Homo sapiens: one gene and its partners. The protein of the gene in region 1 purifies or fractionates together with the protein of each later gene. This does not show direct contact. Each region holds a gene or a part of one and is shown on either strand. Other genes may lie near its edges.

The links. The genes of interacting proteins can lie anywhere in the genome.
Region 2: the proteins of EPB41L2 (region 1) and CLNS1A purify together in Homo sapiens (affinity purification with mass spectrometry; 3 studies listed by BioGRID and IntAct, with this or other methods). This does not show direct contact.
Region 3: the proteins of EPB41L2 (region 1) and SETD1A purify together in Homo sapiens (affinity purification with mass spectrometry; 2 studies listed by BioGRID and IntAct, with this or other methods). This does not show direct contact.

What each region holds. Positions count from the first base shown.
Region 1 is NC_000006.12:131,060,228-131,067,981, reverse strand, and holds the start of EPB41L2 (band 4.1-like protein 2), read left to right. Parts: upstream 1-4,736; 5' UTR 4,737-4,827; exon of another isoform or gene 4,828-4,840; intron 4,841-7,754. UniProt on the Homo sapiens protein: Required for dynein-dynactin complex and NUMA1 recruitment at the mitotic cell cortex during anaphase.
Region 2 is NC_000011.10:77,634,786-77,642,497, forward strand, and holds the start of CLNS1A (methylosome subunit pICln), read right to left. Parts: upstream 3,010-7,712; 5' UTR 2,930-3,009; coding exon 2,805-2,929; intron 1-2,804. UniProt on the Homo sapiens protein: Involved in both the assembly of spliceosomal snRNPs and the methylation of Sm proteins.
Region 3 is NC_000016.10:30,953,778-30,960,762, forward strand, and holds the start of SETD1A (histone-lysine N-methyltransferase SETD1A), read left to right. Parts: upstream 1-3,976; 5' UTR 3,977-4,187; intron 4,188-4,192; exon of another isoform or gene 4,193-4,347; intron 4,348-4,396; exon of another isoform or gene 4,397-4,607; intron 4,608-4,667; exon of another isoform or gene 4,668-4,699; intron 4,700-4,759; exon of another isoform or gene 4,760-4,783; intron 4,784-4,939; 5' UTR 4,940-4,954; coding exon 4,955-5,104; intron 5,105-5,313; coding exon 5,314-5,409; intron 5,410-6,985. Other genes in the region: ORAI3 (protein orai-3), read left to right, coding at 1-67. UniProt on the Homo sapiens protein: Histone methyltransferase that catalyzes methyl group transfer from S-adenosyl-L-methionine to the epsilon-amino group of 'Lys-4' of histone H3 (H3K4) via a non-processive mechanism.

The DNA.
Region 1 (7,754 bases):
CTTCTCAGCTATTGCACCCTCCTGGAAGGTTTTCCTCTGGAGAGAGTGGGATTATAAGCAGTAAGAGCATACATATAACCTTAAAACCCCTATCCTTCTAAGTGTTTTCTAATAAGTAGAACACATTTGTGTGCCTTGGGAAACCACACAAAACTAAACTGAAGAATGGTACTTTGCTAATACCAACCTTCCGCCACACATCTGTTTTGAATAAACGAAGGACCACTCTCTAAGATGGTCCATTTTCCAAAGGGAGGAATTTGTTTGCTTAGAAACGGCAACATTCCAGCTCCAATCCCACTGTCGCCACTATTTCCGGGGGCTATTTTACAAACTAGCCAATCAAGTCTGGGCTATGTAAATATTTCAAGGATATAATCCAGGGGATTACTCTTCTAATTTTCCCCCTGGTACTGTAATTCAACAGCCTCTTCTGCTGCTCTGATTGTCGCTGTTGATGGATTTTACCACCATTTGCTGAGACCACTTACAAATTATGCTCCTCAGGCAAGGCTCCCCAGCGTGGGCCCAAGGAATTTGGCTCGCCTTGTCACACCACATCAGAAGTTGTCTATGGTATTGTGGGGGTAATTCTGTCTGTCCAGCAAAGTCCAATGACACTGCTTAAAGGTCATTTTACCTTCCTCATCCCCACATCTAATTAAGTGGGCAGTCTGCTGACTGCAGGCATGTAGTGGAGTGGGGTGGTCACATGCCAGTCCACTTTTATTAAAGTTTGGTGTTCTGTCTCAATCATTTTCCATAGCAGGACTTCTGCGTATTCCCTGCAAAATAGGAATCTAAAGAGCCCTTTAGGCTCTTTTCAGAGTCTCCTCTTTGCTTTGACTATGTCTATGAATGAGCCTGGAGCCTTCTCTTTTGATGTCTCTTTGTTTTTTTGTTTTTTGTTTTTTGTTTTTTTTTGAGCGGGAGTCTGGCTCTGACGCCCAGGCTGGGGTGCAGTGGCGCCATCTTGTCTCACTGCAACCTCTGCCTCCTGGGTTGAAGCCATTCTCCTGCCTCAGCCTCCCGAGTAGCTGGAATTACAGGTGTGTGCCACCACGCGCTAAAATAATATACATATGTGCTTTCCAAATGTAGCTTTTCTGGGACTTTTATTGGATCTGTACCATTTCTGTTTTCAGCTCTAGGGAGCAATTGATTATGAGATGTCATGAGGAGCAACTCTGAAGACTCTGTTCCAGCTTAAGGGAATCAGCCAGTCCATCCCTGTTTCTCTGTCATTGAGCCTAATTAAGTAGGGTGTGTGTGTGTGTGTGTGTGTGTGTGTGTGTGTGGCAAAACTCCAACTACAATTGAGAGAATACCTCAGTTTGGCAGGCTTGAGATGCATATACCTGTTATTAGCCATAGTTGGGAGTGGCTTTTCCAAAGATGACATCACTTGGTGTGTCTTAGATGGAAAGGAGGTCCTGTGATGCTTTTGATAAAAAATCTGTATAAAGAGTTGCTTGAGGGCCAACTTGAATACCAGACTAGAAAAACATGGTGCCTGTAGTGAATTGCTTACAAGATGTCTGTCAACAATTTTCCCCCTCACTGTACAGACATTCCACGCCTCCTACCAAGAAGCAAAGTCTATGACCCCTCTCCTTGAATTGCGGCTGGCCCTCTGATTTGCTTTGACCAACAGAATGGAGCATAAGTGATGCTGTGTGACTTCTGGGCAAAGCCCTTGCAGGCCTTGCAGCATTTGTTTTTGTTCTCTTGGAAGCTGGGTGTCATGTAAAGAAGTCTGGGTTATCCTACTAGATAGGCCACATAGAGGATGGAGGGAGGGAGCGCGTGCAGAAAACAAAGGGAGACAGAGGGAGAGAGAGAGAAACAGAGAGAGAGGGAGAGAGAGAAAGAGTCTGGAGGATGAGAGTCCATGTGGAGGAGAAATTAGGTGCCCCAGTTGACAGGCAGCACCAACTGCCAGACATGTGAGTGAAGCCATCTTAGATCCTTTATCCACAGTTGAGCCTCCCAGCTGAGCATTGCTTGAATTCCTGCCCCAAAGAACCACAAGCAATAAAATGGTTGTTTTAAGTCACTAAAGCAGGGTCTTGTAGTCCAGTTGAAACTGAGCCAAAGTTGGCCAGGTGACAGAGTGACTCCTGCAGTCATTTGTGTGATATGTTTGTTGCTGTGGCAGTGGAACTGGGATTGCATGAATTCACGATGAAGCTTGAGAATGCCTTAGAAATAGTAGGAGAGGGCATTTTCAGGTCTTGCTGCCTGTGGACCACGTAAAGGAAGGGCAGGTCCTCAACCCAGAGCCACTCCAACCTGGTTTGGGCTTGGCACACAGAAGGCACAAAGATAAAATGATGACTCATGGATATAGTGAGATCAAGCTCTTCCAGAGGCCACGCCTATGGGGGTGAGTTGGTAAGTAAGGGCACTAAGGAGGTCCTGGGTACATTTCTAGTCCATACTTCCAGACTAACTTTGCTTGCACATAGTGCCCAGGATTGAGGCTATTATGGTAAATTTGGATGTGGTAGCTCTCAGGACTAGTACCTATATTCTTCTCTTGTTCTCTGTGTCAGTCCTTTGCCTGTTACTACAGTGTGTCTAGCAGGAAGACCCAATCTTGTTCTACCTAGAGTGTTTTCCTGGGGATTAACATTCTGCCCTTGAACTGCAGCCTGGTAGTCCTGACAGTGCTTCCGCCTGCCTGAGTCTTTGGATGTCACCTATTCCAGGACTTTGTCCTTCTTTCTGTTCAAACCCCTCTTCTCTTCTTGTTAGACTTCCCTGGTTGTCTGGACTACCACCTGTTGTTTGCTAAATCTCTATGATGCCACTTCCATCAGTTTTCTTCACTTCCTTATAGCTTCTGGGACTTGATTTTTCTGCCCTCAGTTCCTGCTAGGTCCTCACTGAATCTGTTCCATTCCATTAAAATGCCAGGGCTATGTAAGGCTGTGTCCAAAAACAGAGTTCAATTCTTCTTTCACACAATAGCCTTTATACATTTGACAACCTTTTTATCACCTTTAATCATCTCTTTAGGCTAAATCTTGCTGGTTCCCACATTTTCAAGGTCACCCATTTATGGTTATAATTTAGCTTATCAATATTTTCTTTTGGAGGGAAAAATTTCTTCTTAAGAGGTGGCATATAGGAGTGATTCATGTACTTCAACGCAGAGTATAGTAAGCATATCCTTTCTTATGAGAAGGGCATTATATTTTATTAACTATGCCTATATTTATGTTATTTTGCACTAGCATTTTAAAGGGGGCTCCATCAGGGTGGTTCAATGTTTTATGGGCCCAAAAGCTTATATGACTTTAGGGACTCTTTAAAAAACACAAAATGAAATACAAAATTATAAAGTTAGTTTCAAGGCTTGTGAAAATGAGAGATCCCGAAGTTTGTTTCATTAGTTTCGTTGTAAATCTGCTGCATATTTCTTATTATGAGAAAATAATAGTATTTTCTCATTAAATTCCCAGGTCTCCTTTACCAGAATTGCTGTCTAATCAGATTTCTGCTCTGTTTTAGCACACCTTATAAAATTTAACTTGTATACTTAGCATATGGGATTGTGATTAAATTAATACATGTAAGGGACTTAGAACAATGCCTAGCACATAAAGCACACAATCAACCTTAACTATTATTATTTGTATTATTTACTAGAAGGACCTTGGCAAATAATTTATCTTCCCAAATCTTTTTGATGTAATGGAGCTCAAACGTGCCTGCCTTTTTCATAGGGTGATTGTGAGGATCAAATGATGATAAAATATGTGAATGTATTTTGTTAACTGGAAGGTATTGTTACTGAGGTTTCATTTGACATTGTTAATTTTGGAAAAGGTTCTGTTTAGGAAAGAAAGGGAGACGACTTTGGCTGTGGTGGAATCACTAAAGACCTCAATAAAAGTGGGAGGAGTAAAAGGGATAAGAGGTGCGTGTGAGGCAGATGCTGGAGGCAGTGAGCTGGACACGTTGTTTGACACCAGCTTGACGTGCAAACCTTCAAAAGATGAAATATATTGAATCTGAAACATATTGACCTCATTGTACAAAAGAAAAGAACCAGAAGGGTAGCGTGTGTGTGCTTGTGGCTTTCCACAATTTAGCCCCAAACTAGGTTTTTTCCAGACTCTTCTTCACCCGTGGTCATGCTCTGCAATCCAGATTCCCAGGCCTCTGCCCAGAGAAATCCTACTTACTCTGGGGAGGCCTTTCCTCCACGGGGTTTCCCCAACCCCTCCTGTCCCTCCCACAGGAAGAATAAATGGTTCCTTTTCAATGCCCTTCCTGTGAAAGCACTTTTTCCACTCTAGACTGAGGGAGACCCAGTTTTCCTTATTCTGCATCTCCAGGCTCTGCTCCAGTGTTTACCTCTAGGAAGGCGCTCAGTGAAGGTTTAGTCAGCAAATGCACTTTGAATAAATAACTTTTAAAAGTTGAGAGGACATTTAAGGCCGGGAATCGCAGTTGAGAACGCCTTGCCCAGGCGCATTAGCTGTCATCCGGGCTGCCCTGAGGGCGAAAGACGTCCTCCACCCCCGGGTCTCCGCGGCCGCGCTTGCCGAATCCCGCGGGAAAGGTCCCCCGCCCGCGCAGGGGCGGGGCCTGGGCGTCGGGGGCGGGACCGCCCGCGGGGGTTTCCGCGCCGGGGGCTCGTCCGGCGGGGTCGCGGGAGGGGCTTCCGCCGCGAGGGGGCGGGGCCGGCCCTCAGAGTCCTCTGACGGCCCCAGTCAGGGAATTTCAATTTGAAACCTAGCGGAGGGAGGAGGCAGGCGCGGCTGCCGGCGGCTGGGACTGAAGAGGGACGGGTCCCGCGGCGAGCGAGCTCCTGAGGTACGGCGTCGGGGTAAGGAGGCGTGCGGGGCTGCACGGGCCGGGCGACTGGTCAGTGTGGGGTTGCAGGGGCGGCTCAGATTTTTCCTCTGGCTGCAGCTGGGAAGCTGATTCCGGGCAGGAAGCGGTGGCGGGACGGTCCCACCGGGATGGGGGGCGGGGAGAGGGGGCCCGGCTTTGGGATTTTCTGCGGCTCCCTCTCTCCTTTCCTTCCCGGTCTCTGCCCGACCCGATTCTTGCCCGGGGGTCCGGGTCCTGTTGCTCCGGGCCGGATCCCGGCTTCGCTGCTCCCCGCGGTCCCCCTCTTCCCTCTTCCGGGGGACCGGGGCCGCGTCCCGGCGGAGCCAGGAAAGGCGGGGGCACGGGGAGGACGCCGTCCCCCCCGGGGTGCCGTGGGCTCAGGTCACGCGTCCGGGCCCCGTGGAGCAACAGCGGGAAAAATCCGGCTCCATCCCCCCCGCGGGGAGGGGGTCGGCCGCGGCGTCGCCCTTCAGGAGGAAGGTTTTAGGAGGGGAAGCGCGGGCCGGCCGCGCGCGTGGGGACTGCGGGAAGCCGGGCGAGGGCGGCGCGCCAGCCCCACGCGCGGTGCGGGTCGGGCCCGCTGTAGGCTCGCGTCCGCGCCCCCAGCTGCCGCCTGCGCCGTCTGGGAGCTGCGGAGAGGGACGCGTGTTTCGTGCTCCGATCCTTACAATTCCCACACCCAGGCCATCTCACCACAGATGGCTTGTTTTTTCTCCTCCTGCGCCTGGGGGCCGAGGGTTGGGAGCATTTTTAGGTGAGCAGCGGGGAAGGGCGAGGAGAACCTAAAGGAGCGCGACAGGGTTGAAGTCGGCGTCTGGGGACGCCATCCCCAGGCGCAGACGCTGCCCCCAGCAGCCTGAGGTCTGTGGTGGGACATCAGTTATGCTTCTCTAGATCGCTCACCTCCCCTGAGGTCAAGTTTTTTTTTTTATATATATGTATAAATAAAATGAGGTTTGGTGAGAAGAACTACTGCCTAGAGTCTATTATTTTGGGGAGGGGTCTGCGTATGGAGCCCTCCCTACGGACCCGGGTAGTCTTTCATTGAATTGCCCCATCAACACCACAGCTGCCCTTAATTTTAAGATCCCTGGGTGGATGGGAGAGAAGGTGGAATCTAGAGGAGCTGTGGCTATATTTTCGCTTTTCTGAATCACATCTTTCCCCAGTTTCTTGAACTTCTTGCCTCTGAAATGGCATGTGTGTGCCAGGCGTCTTGTTCCTCTTGTTACTGTTATTTAAGCTGTTTTAAAAAAACGACTTTCGCGGTTTTCCCCTCAGTTTTTCAGTCTTTATTTCCTCCCCCACCCTACGTTTTTATTGTTTTTTTCAACGGAATACATTATTTATCTGGTCTCTTTATAACGCTGTTGAGAATTAGCATTTCAGTTGGTGTTCTGTCAGATTTCACCTTGGACTTAGCAGTTGAGGGAAACTGAGTCAGTTTCTATGCTGCAGGGGCTAGGATTTAGAATTCTCAAGCTTTGAACAGGTTTCAGTGGGGGAACGAATAGTGCTTAATCCTATTCAGTTTCCCTTTGCAGGCTCATTGCTGTGAGAAATCACTGGGTGGCTGTTGCAGCCACTGATGGGGGCTGCATTGCAATGCAATCTTGAATTGTGATAAGGGCCAACTGGCTCCATCCGTTAGGCTGTGAGTTTGACACAACTTTTGAAGAGCTATGCTGTGTCACCTGTCAGAGCTCGAGTGGTCATTCTTTTAATTCAATTTAAGAACCACCATCAAACTTCAGATATCTATTCTTTGGAGGTTATTGGAGAACTGTACAAGTGGTAATGGCTTGGAACAATGGTGTGGATTTAGCGCTAATTTAATCCTATCCTGTCTTCCTCACTTCTTGGGCAGAATTCCCACTGAAGTCAGTAGTGGTCTTGTGTGCAGACAGACTGCCGAGAACAAGAGGCTGCTCATTTAGAGTAACGGGAAGGGACGGTTTCTTTCCTTTTAAAACATCCCTCTGTAAGAAAGACTTAGTCATAACAGTTCTTTAATCTTTAACCACTAGTCCAAGTAGTTGAGAGCACTTTTTGCAAAAACCTTCGAAAGAAAATTCGTGGATGAATTGAGCCACGTCCCTCGAACTCTTCATATATCTACGTTGCATGGTGATCCTTAAAAAAGATTAAAAGTGATTTTAAAAAATCAGTTAAAGCTATAATTTCAGTAAAATTTTTCCTAACTTTTGTAAAAAATGTAAACTGCCAGGGAGCATTTTGTAGCAACTAAGTGTGTATATTTCAAATCTGAAATTTAAGTCCAAGTAGAAAGAAGCAAATTTAATTTAGGGGATGAATCTGAAGAGAGGCCACCAAAAAAATAACCATCTAAATATAAAAGAAGGAAGTTCAGATATCTCTTGCTGTTTTTCAGGAGATAGCTTTAGGGCAGTTTGCTCACTTTCATACCTGTTCTTAACGATTTACTGACTGCCTGGGTCCATCATTAGATAATGCTAGCACTTGGAGGTTTCCAAATGAGTTTTGTGCTGATCTGAGTTGCTGAGCTAGTTAGATCCTTGGCTTCTTAACGTAACATTCTTGTGGCTTACCCTTTCCAAATTACTAGTTCTAAGGAATTGAGTTTAGAAAACCTAACCAGTGACCAGAATGTAAAAATAGGTATTTAAAAATCAGAACCATGTCCACGTGTACTACCCAACCACTTGCTTTCAACTAAAAATACTTGCAAAGATGACAAAGCAGTCCACAACCAAAATATTTATTGGTACAATTTCTCTGTAATTAGTAATATTGTACAGTTATGTTTAACATCAGGTTCTGCCCTGAATCACCCCTCTCATATTACTGTGGCTGGTGAACTACAAAGGTTGTATCTTTGCCATTTCATTTAGGAATATAGGGTTTATATTTTATATAGCAGAATG
Region 2 (7,712 bases), on another chromosome or scaffold:
GAAACAAATAATGTTTAATTTTTTTCAGAGACAAGGTTTCACTCTGTCACCCAGGCTGGAATGCAGTAGTGTGATCACAGCTCACCGCAGCCTCAACTGCCCAGGCTCAAGTAATCCTCCCACCTCAGCTCCCCATAGTAACTGCCACTACAGGCACGTGCAACCACGACCGGCTAATTTTTGCAGTTTTTGTATTCTTTGCAGAGATGGGGTTTTGTCATGTTGTCCAGGCTGGTCAAGAACTCCTGGACTCAAGGGATCTGCTCACCTTGGCCTTCCGAAGTGCTGCGATTACAGGCGTAAGCCACCTTGCCCAGGCTAAGAATTTTTTAAAAGCTGATAAGAACTTAAAAAGAGTTATACTTCCTTAGTATGAGAATTGTATTGTGGTTATACAAGATAATGTCCCTGTTCTTCTGAACAGGAAGTGGAAAACGTCGACAATTCTCAAATGGCTCAGAAAAAAAAGAAAAACAGAGACATAAACATGGCAAAATGTTAACTAATAAATCTTTGTGAAGGGTGTATGGGTAGTAATAACACAACTTTTCTTTAGGTTTGAAATTTTTCTTTTTTTTTTTTTTTTGAGACAGTCTCACTCTGTCACCCAGGCTGGAATGCAATGGCATGATCTCGGCTTACTACAACCTCCGCCTCTCGGGTTCAAGCGATTCTCCTGCCTCAGCCTCCCAAGTAGCTGGGATTACAGGTGCACGCCACCACACCCGGATAATTTTTGTATTTTAGTAGAGACAGGGTTTCACATTGTTGGCCAGGCTGGTCTTGAACTCCTGTCATCAGGTGATCCACCCGCCTCAGCCTCCCAAAGTGCTGGTATTACAGGCGTGAGCCACCACACTGGATCTTAGGTTTGAAATTCTTCTAAATGCAAAAATCAATACAGGACTGTCCCTCAAAAGGAGTTATAATACTGAAAGAAGCGTCAACATACAGAAATGTCATGAATAAAAAAGGAATGCCTGGGAACTAGGAATGTATCTGTGCTCCATCTTCCACCACTTCAAAGAAACTGCTTTCCCCAATTATCAAAGATCTCCTTGTCAATACTCAATATATGCTCTTCACATTTTGTTTTGACTGCTCCTTCCTCCTTTCTCAAGTTTCTTCTTTCATGACCCACCCGTCGGCGTATCCCTAGGGTTCTACACTTGGTCCTCTTCTCTTCTGAGATATCTAATCCATTTCCATGAGTATACACTAACACTTTAACGACCTCCAAACATCTCTCTTTAATACCACTTTCCCAAGATACACATTCTTTTTTTATTTTTATTTTTTTTTTGAGACAGGGTCTCACTCTGTCATGCAGGCTGGAGTGCAGGGGCACAATCACGGCTCACCGCAGCCTCGACCTCCTGGGCTCAGGTGATCCTCCCACCTCAGTTTCCTGAGTAGCTAGGACTACAGGCCGCCACCATGCCTGGCTAATTTTTGTATTTTTTGTAGAGACTGGGTTTCGCCATGCTGCCCAGGCTGATCTCAAACTCCTGGGCTCAAGCGATCTGCCTGCCTCAGCCTCCCAAAGTGCTGGGATTACAGGTGTGAGCCACCGCGCCCGGCCCAACACGGTCATATGTACAACTACTCCACACATGTCCTGACCAAACTCATTATCTGCCTCTCACCTCAATCTTGCTTTTCCTCCCATCCATATGTCCTATCTCAGTTTCTGGCCTGAAGCCTAAACCTTGTTCAATGTCTAAATTTCCCTTTAAAGCAGAGGTTCTTTACAGTTTTTGTGCTCTGGATTCTGTAGTAGGCAGAATTTTGGCCCCACGACCTTCACTTTCTGGTGTCATGCGGGTGAATATGTTATATTACACAGCAAAAGGGACTTCACAAACGTAATTAAGGTTACCAGTCGACAGTAACATAGGGAGATTATCCTGGATTTTACAGGTGGTTCCAAAGTAATCACATGAGCTCTTAAAAGTAGAGAATTTTCTCTGGCTGTAGACAAGTGATGGAGCAAAAGGGGAAGCAACACATATCTGAAGGGCAGGAAAGATTCGATGTGTCATTACAGGCTTCAAAATAAAGAAAACTGCATGTCAAGGAAACAGGGACCTCTGTTCTACAACCACAATATTTACGGTAGATCTATCTGACTGTCAAAATACCAAAGTGCTCCACGTGGCCAAATAAAAGGGCAATTCCTTCCAGGACCCCAAAACGGGAGTCTGGTCCCTCTGCATATGACCCCTGTCTGTGTCGAGTTAAGGGTGTTCCTCTCCTTACTATACCTACAGAAGAAAATCTTTATTGTGTAACCAAACTTTAAAAGTCCTCCACAGTCGGCTCTGAAACTACGTATCCCAGAGAGGGGAACATCTCCTGCATCTGTTCATCCGGAAAGACAGGCACACTTCAGACCCTTAAAACCAGACCGTGCGTTAAGGGCAACGCACGCGCCAGACCTCCAGTAAATAGGCGAGTTAAAAAAAAAAAAAAAAGAAAATAAAAGAAAGAAAGAAAGAAAAGAAGAAGAAAGAAAGAGAGAAAGAGACAGAGAAAGAGAAAGAGGAAAAAAAGAAAAAAAAAAAAAAAAAGCACAATCCATAAGGGGAAATTCCGGCCGGAGAAAACAGAGAATGGAAGACTCCGGAGGAGTACTAGAAAAATCGAGCCTTCCACCCGCTACAGGTATCCCTGAGGCGTCGGGCACGAGACCCCGCTCCCAGCAGGCCTCCAGGCCGCCCCTTGCCCGGCTCCTTCGCACCGCCTGCTCCAGCAAGGAGGAGGGCGGCGCGCAGGAGGCCAGCGCTGGGGACCAGGAACCCTACCTCTCAGCGATGTAAAGGGTACCAGTGCCGAGGCCCTTCCCGTTCAGCACAGCCTCAGTGTCTGGCTGCTGCCGCAGGAGCCCCTCCGCTGGCCCAGGCGGCGGGAAACTTTTGAGGAAGCTCATAGCAGCAGAGTGCGGCAACACAGGCCCTGAGGGAGTTGGAGCACAGCAATGCGTGCACCACACCGCCCGCCCTGGAAGAGGCAGTCACCCCGGAAGAACAACTTAGTCTGCCCCGGAATCTGAACGCCGTCGACCATAGAGATGAGACATTCTAGGAAAAGCGGCGGAGGTCGGCTAAGAACGTGTGGAGTTTGACCGCGCAACACCCTTCCCCTTCTTCCTCGCCATTTCTGAGGCTTTGGGCTTCAATAACTGAGGGTTCTGTGGGAAGTCCCTCAGGATTGTCACAGTGAAACCACCACTGCAAAATTATAACTGAGACACTGAAAGCGATCTGACCTACCCAAATCCATGTTGTTTCTAACCTCCAAACTGTCCTTGTTCATTGCTGGATATAGGCTGAACTAACTTTGGGAGGAACTTAGTTTACAGTTTGAAGTTTAAAACAAAGATGATGACAGCCTTTTCCCAAAACAAACTTCCTTCTTGCCTGGGGACTGGACTGCCTTTGTAGGACTAACAAATCAGCCACAAGATTAGAAATTATGGTTTAGATTAGAAATTACAGCTGCAAGCTACAAGATTCTGACCCTCCCTAAACTGCACCTAAGATCGGTGCTTGAGATATGTTGCAGACCCTGCACTTGATGGATCAGCTGGCACCACCAGATGGATAAACTGGCTATGTGATCTTGTGCCCCCTCCCCACCAACCCAGGAACTGACTCAGCGCAAGAGGACAGCTTCAACTCCCTGTGACTTCATCTCCCACCCAACCAATCAGCACTCTTGACTCACTGGCCTTCCCCAACCTGCCAAATTATCCTTAAAAACTTGGATCCCTGGCTGGGCGCGGTGGCTCACGCCTGTAATCCCAGCACTTTGGGAGGCCGAGGCGGGCGGATCACGAGGTCAGGAGATCAAGACCATTCTGGCTAACATGGTGAAACCCCGTCTCTACTAAAAATACAAAAAAATTAGCCGGGTGTGGTGGCAGGCGCCTGTGGTCCCAGCTACTGGGGAGGCTGAGGCAGGAGAATGGCGTGAACCCGGGAGGCAGAGCTTGCAGTGAGCCGAGATAGCGCCACTGCACTCCAGCCTGGGCGACAGAGCGAGACCCCGTCTCAAAAAAAAAAAAAAAACAACAAAAAACAAAAAACAAAAAAACTTTGATCCCTGAATGCTCTGGGAAACTGATTTGAGTAAAAATAAAACTCTAGGCCGGGTGCAGTGGCTCATGCTTGTAATCCCAGCACTTTGGGAGGCCGAGGCGGGCAGATCACGAGGACAGGAGATCGAGACCAGCCTGGCTAACACGGTGAAACCCCGTCTCGACTAAAAATACAAAAACAAAATTAGCCGGGCGTGGTGGCAGGTGCCTGTAGTCCCAGCTACTCGGGAGGTTGAAGCGGGAGAATGGCGTGAACCCGAGAGGCGGAGCTTGCAGTGAGCCGAGGTCGCGCCTTGGCACTCCAGCCTGGGCGACAGAGAGAGACTCCGTCTCAAAACAACAACAACAAACTCTAGTCTCCTGCACAGCAGCTCTGCGTGAATTACTGTTTTTCTGTTACAATTTCCATCTTGATAAATCAGCTCTGTCTAGGCAACAGGCAAGGTGAACCCATTGGGCCATTACAGCAGCAACCCTGTTACAACCCTGTAACCCAGTTACATACAACCCTGTTGTAACTGCCCAATGGGATCACCGTGCCTGCTGCTTAGACAGAGCCTATTTATCAAGACAGGGGAATTGCAATAGAGAAAGAGTAATACACCGGTGGCAATGGCTCACGCCTGTAATCCCAGCATTTTGGAGGCCGAGGCGGACGGATCACCTGACGTCGGGAATTCGAGACCAGCCTGACCAACATGGAGAAACCCCGTCTCTACTAAAAATGCACAATTAGCCTGGCGTGGTGGCGCATGCCTGTAATCCTAGCTACTCGGGAGGCTGAGGCAGGAGAATTGCTTGAACCCGGGAGGCGGAGGTTGCGGTGAGCCGAGATCACGCCATTGCACTCCAGCCTGGGCAACAAGAGCGAAACACTGTCTCAAAAAAAAAAAAAAAAAAAAAAAAAAACAAAGAGAGAAAGACTAATACATGGAGTCCCTTGCCAAAGGATGCATAGGACATAGAGACCACTCATCTGGAGCTCAGAAGTCTCCCAACTCGGTTATGATGTTCTGATCTGGCCACCCCGTCCCCATCTCCTGGGACTGTTCACATCTCAGGTATACACAACCAAGTAGCATACATCAATCTAGGTCCTTATACTGCCCTAGTGCACAAGCCACGTCCCCACGTGTCAGGTGGGCAGATAAGTATAAAGGGTTAATAAGGGCAGGGTGAAGAGCTAGCTACATCAGTAAGGAGCTGGGGCACTGACTGGAAAGGAATTAATCCACCAAAATTGCAATTGATGTTTTGTTTCTTCGTTAGGCACTAAAGAGTATAGTAGTAATAGGAAGAAAGACTTCCAAAATCGTCATAATGGTAGCTAAAGTTAACGAGTGTTCTGTGCCAGGCTCTCTTCCAGGCACTTTACCTGCACTTTGCTTGCATCATCTCTTCATTTACTCTTTGCAAGTTTGTGAAGTTACTATTATTGACCCACTTTACAGATGAGAGACCTGAGGCATTAAACTCAAGAGCAATAATTTGGCCATGAGAGAACAAGTGAAATTCAAGTAAATCCCCTTGTAAACTCAGTATGGTAATACCTTTGCAGTAGGACTGCTGAGGCTGGAGGACAGGATGTGTGGGGTAGTTTTGTTTCTATCTTCTCAACAGTTAGGCTGGCATTAAATTTTTAACGTGTTTGAGATCAGCCTGGGCAACATAGTGAGACCCCCATCTCTACCAAAAAATAAATAAATAAATTAGCCCAGCATGGTGGCATGTGCCTGTGATCCCAGCTACTTGGGAGGCTGAGGTGAGAGGATCATTTGAGCCTCAGAAGTGGAGGCTACAGTGAGCCATGATTGTGCCACTGCACTCTAGCCTGGGTGGCAGAGCAAGACTCCATCTCAAAAAAATTTTTTTTTCCTTTAACGTAGACTAGTTTGTTGGTAGTGTTAAAGTGAATTAAATATGGGTTGAGGAGGGCTCTGTACTTCTATATTTGAGTCCTTGTGGATGCACTGTAACCTAAGTTAATAGGGAGATAACTTTGAAAACCTAACTTAGGAGTATTCACCTGTAACAATAGTTGAGCCTTGGCCAATCCCAGCAGCCATACTTCAACAACTCATACACTGTTGAGTGTTCAAACTGTGTTCAAATAAGGCAGATGCCAACCTGTAACCAACCCAGCTGTTTCTGTACCTCACTTCCAATTCTTGTACATCACTTCTCTTGTTTTTTGTCTATAAATTTGTTGTGACCATGAGGCATCCCTGGAATCTCTCTGAATCTGCTGTGATTCTGGGGGCTGCTTGATTTGCAAATTATTCATTGCTCAATTAAACTCCTTGAAATTTAATTCTGCTGAAGTTTTTCTTTTAACAGATGGTGTCAGAAGTGGGATCTGAAGTAGAGGTTGTAACGATCCCCAGGAGTGCTGAGTGAACAAGCAAGTTACCTGCAGAATCCACTGTGTCCTTTGATCTGTCACAGCAGCTGGGGTTCCTGGTAAGTTCTCTCTCAGATTTCAGAGCTCCACAGATTAGTGTTTTGAGCTCTCTGAGTTCCTTTTTTTTTTTTTTCTGAGACAGAGTTTTGCTCTTGTTGCCCAGGCTGAGTGCAATGGCGAGATCTTGGCTCACTGTGACCTCCGCCTCCTGGGTTCAAGCAATTCTCCTGCCCCCTCCTGAGTAGCTGGGATTACAGGCATGCACCACCACACCCAGCTAATTTTTTATATTTTTAGTAGAGATGGGGTTTCTCCATGTTGGCCAGGCTGGTCTGGAGCTCCTGACCTTCAAGTGATCCACCCACCTCAGCCTCCCAAAGTGCTGGGATTACAGGCATAAGCCACCACACCCGGCCAGCTCTCTGAGTTTCTTTGAGCAAATTTCTTTTCCAAACTAGGTTTAGAAGTTGCGACAGAAACTAGACTGGGTCCAGGATCAAATTTGATCTGGTAATTAACTGGCTTGAATCCAGTTAGAGGCCTTTTATATCTGACTAGGCCAGAAAGAAACTGGTAGTACGTGGTGGTATTGTTGGGGTTGTAAAATTTGGCTTTTGAAAATTCACAGGGATTTTTCTGTTCCTCCCCTTTATTTCATTTTTTTTGCTTGCTTAGGTAGGAAAAAATCATTGGCTAAGCTGATCAAGGGAAACTGAAAGTGAAGCCAATATCTTAGGTAAAAATAGATCCTTAATTTCTGGAGGACTGAGTTTCTTCCAGCTTATACCTGCATAAGTGTTAGGCCTGGGAAGCAGCAGAGCCTTACAGAAATGGCAAAATTTTACTAAACATAACTTACAGTGGAAAGTTTCAACTGAACAACAATGCACTGAAGTGCATTTAAAAATGAGGGCTCCCAAATTAGTCTCATCTAGGGATGCCTATTAATATGCAGAAGCTTCTAAAAAGATTTAAAGATGACAGGGCCCATCCAGGGGCAAGTTTGAGTCTTGCCCGTTTGATATTGGGTGCTAAGTGGAGTGGCTAATGTCTATGTTTTGTCACATGTATTTTGCTCTGGCCAATGTGGAAAAAGATAAATTCTCTTTGTGTTGCAACTTGGCCCCCAGGGCTATAGTGCAGTGAGCCAGGTTACTAGAACAACTCAGGGAAAAGGCAACCAGCAAAAGTGAAAGGATTTCTTACCAATCA
Region 3 (6,985 bases), on another chromosome or scaffold:
GACAGACCGCTACAAGCAGGAACTAGAGGAACTGAATCGCCTGCAGGGGGAGCTGCAGGCTGTGTGAGACTGGTGTTAGCCACCGCTCACTGCAAGCACTGCCTCCCTCCGGGGTCTGTAAGAGGCCGCAGGGGCCTACAGACCTCATCCCCCCATCCCCTGGCTGGAGCCACTTCCAGTGGCCACTCTCAGGCAGAGTTCAGATTCCTGCCCGCAGGGTCCTCTGGGCTGGGCCTTGGGGCAGCTCCCACATTCCCAGGGATTTTCCCCATCAGTCTGTCCCTTGGGTTTTGCAAGCTACTCTGCACCTGGGCTGGCCTCAGTTGAAGGATCATGCAGTAGATAGAGGGGAGGCAGGGAGAGCTTGTGGGACCTTCAGTGCTGACTTTAGCCACCATTTCCATTCCTATACAGGATGTGAAGGTCAGAAGGCAGCCAATTGTTGGTTTAATTTTTTTTTTTTTTTGAGACAGTCTGTTTCCCAGGCTGGAGTGTAGTGATACAGTCACAGCTCACTGTAGCCTCGACCTTCCAGGCTCAAAAGATGCTCCCACCACAGCCTCCCAGGTAGTGAGTAGCTGGTACTACAGGTGTGTGCTGCCACACCCGACTAATTTTTTTGTAGAGACGGGGTTTCGCTGTTCCCAGGCTGGTCTCAAACTCCTGGGCTCAAGTGAACCTCCCGCCTCGGCCTCCCAAAGTGCTGGGATTCCTTTCTTTATTTCTGTAGAATCTATTTTATGGTTGGCATTTTGGGGGAAGATTTCGATGGGTTCCACATTCTTGCTTTAGTTGTTGTAGAGGGATTTGGGTGTTTCTACCCAAGGCATTGGTCTAGCTTTTCCTACAATGAACCTATCTTTGGAGGTTCAAGCTCCCCACCTTCCCCCACTGTGGTGACCTGTGGCCACTTGCAGAAGGGATGGTGCCTGACCCACTGCCCTAGCCCCACGCTATGCACCAAACTTGTTCTCCCCGTCCTGGTCCAGGGCTGGGGTCTTTAGAGACTGACAGCCTCTGCCCCAGGCCTGAGTCCTTAGCAAGGGTTGGGTAAGGAGGTTTTAAGGGAGAAGGTCCAGTCCTTAGCCCTTGAAATACAAAGCTCTTCTGACACTGAATTTGGATGCACCTTGTTTTATATAATAAATCGTGTTTCACAGATGTCCCTGTTGCTGTGAAGGGGATGCAGGGCAGGCCTTCTTAGGATAACTTTACTTGTTCCCAAGAGCCGGGTGGTGGCAAGTTTGGGTGGACAGGACCTGGGAGGGGAGTGGGTTTCAGGTGTAACCCTGTCAGATGCTAACAAGGGCCAACAGCTTCTGAATGGGGAGAGTTATTCCAAGGCTACAGGCTTTGAACTCTTGTCCCTGAGTTCAGAGTCTCTATCTCTTCCACTGAGTATTTATTTATTTAGAGACGGAGTCTTGTGTTGCCCAGGCTGGAGTGCAGTGGTGCGATCTCAGCTCACTGTAACCTCCGTCTCCCAAGTTCAAGCAATTCTCCTGCCTCAGCCACCAGAGTAGCTGGGATTACAAGTGTGTGCCGCCACACCCGGCTAATTTTTATATTTTTATTAGAGACGGGGTTTCGCCATGTTGGCCAAGCTGGTCTCAAACTTCTGACCTCAGGTGATCCACCTGTCTGGCCTCCCGAAGTGCTGGGATTACAGGCATGAGCCACCACACCCAGCCCTCCCTGAGTGTTTAGTATAAGCACTCTTTTTTTTTTTTTTTTTTTGAGACCGAGTCTCGCTCTGTCTTGCACTGTCGCCCAGGCTGGAGTACAGTGGCATGATCTCGGCTCACTGCAAGCGCCGCCTCCTGGGTTCACGCCATTCTCCTGCCTCAGCCTCCCAAGTAGCTGGGATTACAGGTGCCCACCACCACGCTCGGCTAATTTTGTTTTTGTATTTTTAGTAGAGATGGGGTTTCACCGTGTTAGCCAGGATGGTCTTGATCTCCTGACCTAGTGATCCCCCTGCCTTGGCCTCCCAAAGTGCTGGGATTACAGGTGTGAGCCATCGCGCCCAGCCGAGACAGTCTCACTCTTTTGCCCAGGCTGGAGTGCAGCTGTGCAATCTTGGCTCACTGCAGCTTTGACCTCCCAGGCTCATGAGCCTCCCACCTCAGCCTCCCAAATAGCTGGCACCACAGGACGTCCCACCAACCCAGCTAATTAATTTTTTTTTTTTTTTGTAGAGAGGAGGGTCTCACTATGTTGTCCAGGCTGGTCTTGAACTCCTGGGCTCAAGTGATCCTCCCACCTTGGCCTCCCAAAGTGCTGAGATTACAAGTGTTAGCCACTGCACCTGGCCTCAAGTTTCTTTCTTGAGCAACTACCACATACTAGGGGACTTTCATAGGTTATCTTATTTAACTCTCACAACACCTTAAGCGTTAAGTCTTTATCATTTTCATTTCAGAGATAAGGAAACAGGCCCAAGAAGGCTGAAGATCTTGCCCAAAACCACACAGCTAGTCCATGAAACTGAACTTGGACTATCTACCCCTCACACGGGAATCTCTCTTTGATTTGAGAAAAGGAACCAGTGCCTTTCAACTGGAACAGAAAGGAATCTGATCTCAACACCTATGCCTCCACGTAAATTATTTTTTTCAGCCTTATTTCCCTCAAAATTGTAGAGTCCTAATCTTCTTCTATCTTGTGGTGTGAGACCTTGGATAAGTCTCCCTTCCACCTTTTCCTATTACTTAAAATGGTGAATTTGCATAAACCAGGCTCTAAGGGTCTTTTCTGCACTGTTCGGATGTGTACAAATTGACATCCAAGTTTAAAGGAAGACTCTGAAACTTAGGTCAATGACTTGCCCAAGGCCATATAGCGAGGGCCTGATGTACACATATCAGGAGCTTGGGGCATCCTCAGCTCAGGAAAAGGGACCTCCTGGGAGTGCCTGCGCCCACACGGGATCAAAACGGTGCCCAGCCTTCAGAAACCTCAGCCCGAGTTCCAGGGGTAGGCCTGGGCCGCTGCTGCCCTTGTGCGGAGGCATCCCGTGAGCATAGGGCGCCATAGCCAAAGAAGCGGGCAGTGGGACCATGACGCCAGGAGGACACACCAGTCCAGTCCCGTTCCTGTAGGACCTCGTTTATTATTACAAGGCCCATTTAAGGGCACTTAGGCCCCACTAGGCTCATCAGAAAACCTTGAGGCGGTCCCTGGATTTAACCACTAATGGTGGGTTTGAGTACGGCAAAGTAGGGCACCTTCTACAGGCCTCACTCTCCCCATCTGGCAAATGGGCATCCTAAGCAGCCAGACACCCAAGGGCAATAACGGGAAGGAAAGGTACCCTGCATTTATGTGCGAGGCGGGGCAAACCGCCTGAGTCACCGCTCACGGTTGTGTTTTTCCACCTCCCGGCCGTCCCTCCCATCCGGGTGAGTCCTCGTGGGTCCTCCCGGAGGCGCCCCCTAGTCCCAGGCTCTGCACGCCCTGGCCCCGCCCCTTGACTCGGCCCCGCCCACAGCGGAATCCGCAGATTCGCCAGGTCGGATCCTCAGAATTCCTCGGGTCCCTCGATACTCGGCTGAAAATTCTCATCGGACTCTGAGAGGAGCGCTGGGCTGGAGGCATTTTCCCCAGGGACAGAAGCGGGCTATTCTCTCACTTGGGCCAGTAAGAAAAATCCAAAAAAAGTTGTCGACTCTGCCAGCAGGGATTGGCTAACGGGCCGTTATTTTCTTGACTCCACCAAGGCGGATGAAGGGGAGGCTACGGCTGAGGCCGGGAACAGTGGCGAATCTGCAGCCTCTCAGAATTTGGCAGTGCAAGGAAGGGACGGGGAAGAGAAGCAAAGCGGCGCGCATCCTGTCCAGCGATTCGCCCCGCCCGCCCGGTGAATCTGCGTCTGCAGAACGCGCCACTGAAGGTTCCCCAGCGCTGGCTGGCCTCCTCCCCTCCGCCCCGCCCCTTTTCCTCAGGGACTAGTCGCAGCTTTCGTCGCCGCCGATTCGTCAAGGTCCCGGGCCGCAGCATCTAGATCGTCGTGGCGAAGCCGACTCTCCGGGGGATGCGGCCAATCTCCAAGCTCCCTGGGCCGCAACTTCCGAGCCTCCCAGGGCGCCGGCCGAGGCGAAGCCGCTACCCTCGGCCCCGTGGGTCCCCCGGCAGCGCCTGTGGCGAAAGTGCGAATGCAGACCCTGTGCCCGCTGGGCCTCGCGCAGGTGGCAGTGGTGTTTGGTGCGCGCGCCGGGGAGGTGGTGGTGGGGGGGCGCCGCCGCCGCCACCGCTGCGGGGCCGGGTCTCGCGCTGCCGCTGCCGCCGCCTCGCGCCGCTGAGGTGCCGCGCGAGGTGGGGGGAGGGGGAGCCGCTCGCCGGGAGCGGGTGAGTGGGGCCGCGCGGCGCGCGTGCGCGGAGACCTGCTGGGGGGGGTGCAGAACGCGCCGGGGCGGGAGGAGAGGGCAGCGGTGCACGTTCCCCCCACCCCCCCGCCCGGATTCGGGGTCGAAGCCGGGTCTCGGGCTCGGTCTCGCGGTGTTTCCAACGCCCCGAAGAGGTGCCACCTTTCGGCCGGAGGATCGGGGCGCGGGGAGGAGAGCGGGTGTGTGGGAGCCGTGGCCGGGCTCGGCCCGGGCCGCTGGCCGGTGAGGAGGCGGGAGGGGGCGGGGCCTGCAGGGGGCGGGGGAGGGGTCTTGCTCCGAGGCCAAGTGGGGCGCGCGCTAGGGAGAGCGGGAAGGTAAGGGGGCTCGAGACGGGCCTGGGGGCCTGACAGTAGAGTTGGGAGGTGGAAAGAGGCTGGGTTGTTGTGGCGAAACAGAGGGTACTTGGGGGAGAATCCGGGGGAGCCCCGGGTCAGGGTGAGGGTTGGAAACTGGAGTGATGGGAGAACCTGGAATCGGGGCTAGCCAATGAGGAAAGGCAGGGGAGTCAGGCCCCAAGTCCTGATCCTTCTTGCGTGTCCCTCTTCCCCTAACAGTGTAAATGAGCAAAGATGGATCAGGAAGGTGGGGGAGATGGGCAGAAGGCCCCGAGCTTCCAGTGGCGGAACTACAAGCTCATCGTGGATCCTGCCTTGGACCCTGCCCTGCGCAGGCCTTCTCAGAAGGTGTACCGCTATGATGGAGTCCACTTCAGTGTCAACGTGAGTGCCCGGGTCTTTGGTTGCCATCCGGGGAGCTCCAGGCGCCCGTCCTCTGTGATTCTGTTCAGCACCTAGAACGGTAGCCTGCCTTCTTGAAAGTGGGCAGTTGGACCCAGCTCTTCTGCATGTGTGTGTCCAGATGGGCTGCTTGGAGCTCCCTAGCCTGGATTCACCCTGAGCTCTCTTTCTGCTGCTGCTTTCCTTCCTAGGACTCAAAGTATATACCAGTCGAAGACCTCCAAGACCCCCGTTGCCATGTCAGGTCCAAAAACAGAGACTTTTCCCTCCCAGTCCCTAAGTTTAAGGTAAGTGTCTGCTGGGCTCCTGGTGTGGTAGTCCTAAGAGGGTGTGGAGGATGCGTCTTGGCACTATAGCTGAATAAAAGGGTTTCCAATGAAAGGATCTCAGCCAGATCTAGCAACCTCTGAGGCTGTGAGACTCAGTTGTTTTGGATAGGAGGTACACTTAATCTTCCAGAAAGGTGCAGGTCAGGTGTCCTAAGTGTATCCCTGGTGGCTGGGGTGTCGACTTCTTGAAGGGTGAGGTAAAGACTCTTTAGCTGCTATACCTATCACTGTATATTCGTAGACAGTGCATCATAGCACACAAGAGTGGGATCTCCCAGTTCCTTGACAGTCAAGGGGAGTGACAAGGCCACTGCCTACCTGGGTAGCACTATTCCCCGCCTCTCATTTGGCGATGTCATTTCCCTCTTGTTTCCTTCGAGGACTCCTATTCTCCACCCTAGACAAGATATTCTTCAGGCCTTGAACTGGGCCTGGAACACTGGTGGTTCTTCATTTCCTTCTCTGATTCTTTATTCTTCCTTTCTAAATAAATTGTTTGTGGGGTCCCTTCATTCTTCTTCTTCTTTTTTTTTTTTTTACTTTGTACACTTCACTTGGACAATCTCTTTCACACCCACAGCTTCAACTATTACCTAAATGTTGATGACTTCCAAGTATCTGTTTCCAGCCAACATCTCTAGGCTTGTATGCCTGGTAGGGGGACAGTTTCATTTGGAGGCCACACATGTTTCAGATTTAAGGGATTTAAAACAAATTATCTACCTCCTTAACCTACCTTTTTCATTTTCCCTCTACTCATATGTGGCAGTACCATCGACTCAGCTGTACAGCCTGGCAGCCTGTGATTCTCTCCTTTTCTCTCTCAGTTGGTCACCGAATCCTCCTGGCTCTTTTCTTTTTTATTCTTCATCTTTCTATTCTCATTGCCACTTAATGTAGACCTTGGTATTCATTTCACCTGGTCTCCTTGCCTTCGTTCTTGCCTCAGTTTCTCCTCTGCCTTGCTGTCATTTGTCTCTTTGGCTTCACTACGCTGCTGTTTTCCTTTTGTTGCCAAGTCCATGTTTTGGGACACTGACATGTATGGTTATTGACCTGGCCAAGCCTTATCCTCCGCCTTGACACCACACCCCTGTGTTACATCCACACCATAACGCTTTGCGGTTTTTCAAAAACACCAAGTTGTTTTATATTTCCATGTTCCAGGGGTCCTTGTCATTTGATGAATTGTTAATCCCCAAATCTCAGTAAGAATGACACCATCTTTATGAATTCTTCCCTGATCATACTCTGTACAAAAGTTTCCTTCCCTGGGCTCCAGAACACCATGTATGCGTCAGCTGCCACTGGGTCGTGTTGTGTTTGTATGTGCATGTCATGCTGCTTTTCTGTATGGGAATCTCTTCCTTTCTATCTCTGTATTTCCAGTGCCTCGTTCATGGTAGTTACCTAGTAAAGGCTGAGCTAGGAAATCATCGCCCTGTAGCTCGTTCTCTCCACGTATATTTATTCCTCAGTGTGTACATTTCTTTCTTTCTTTCTTTTTTTTTTTTTTTTTTTTTTTGAGACGGAG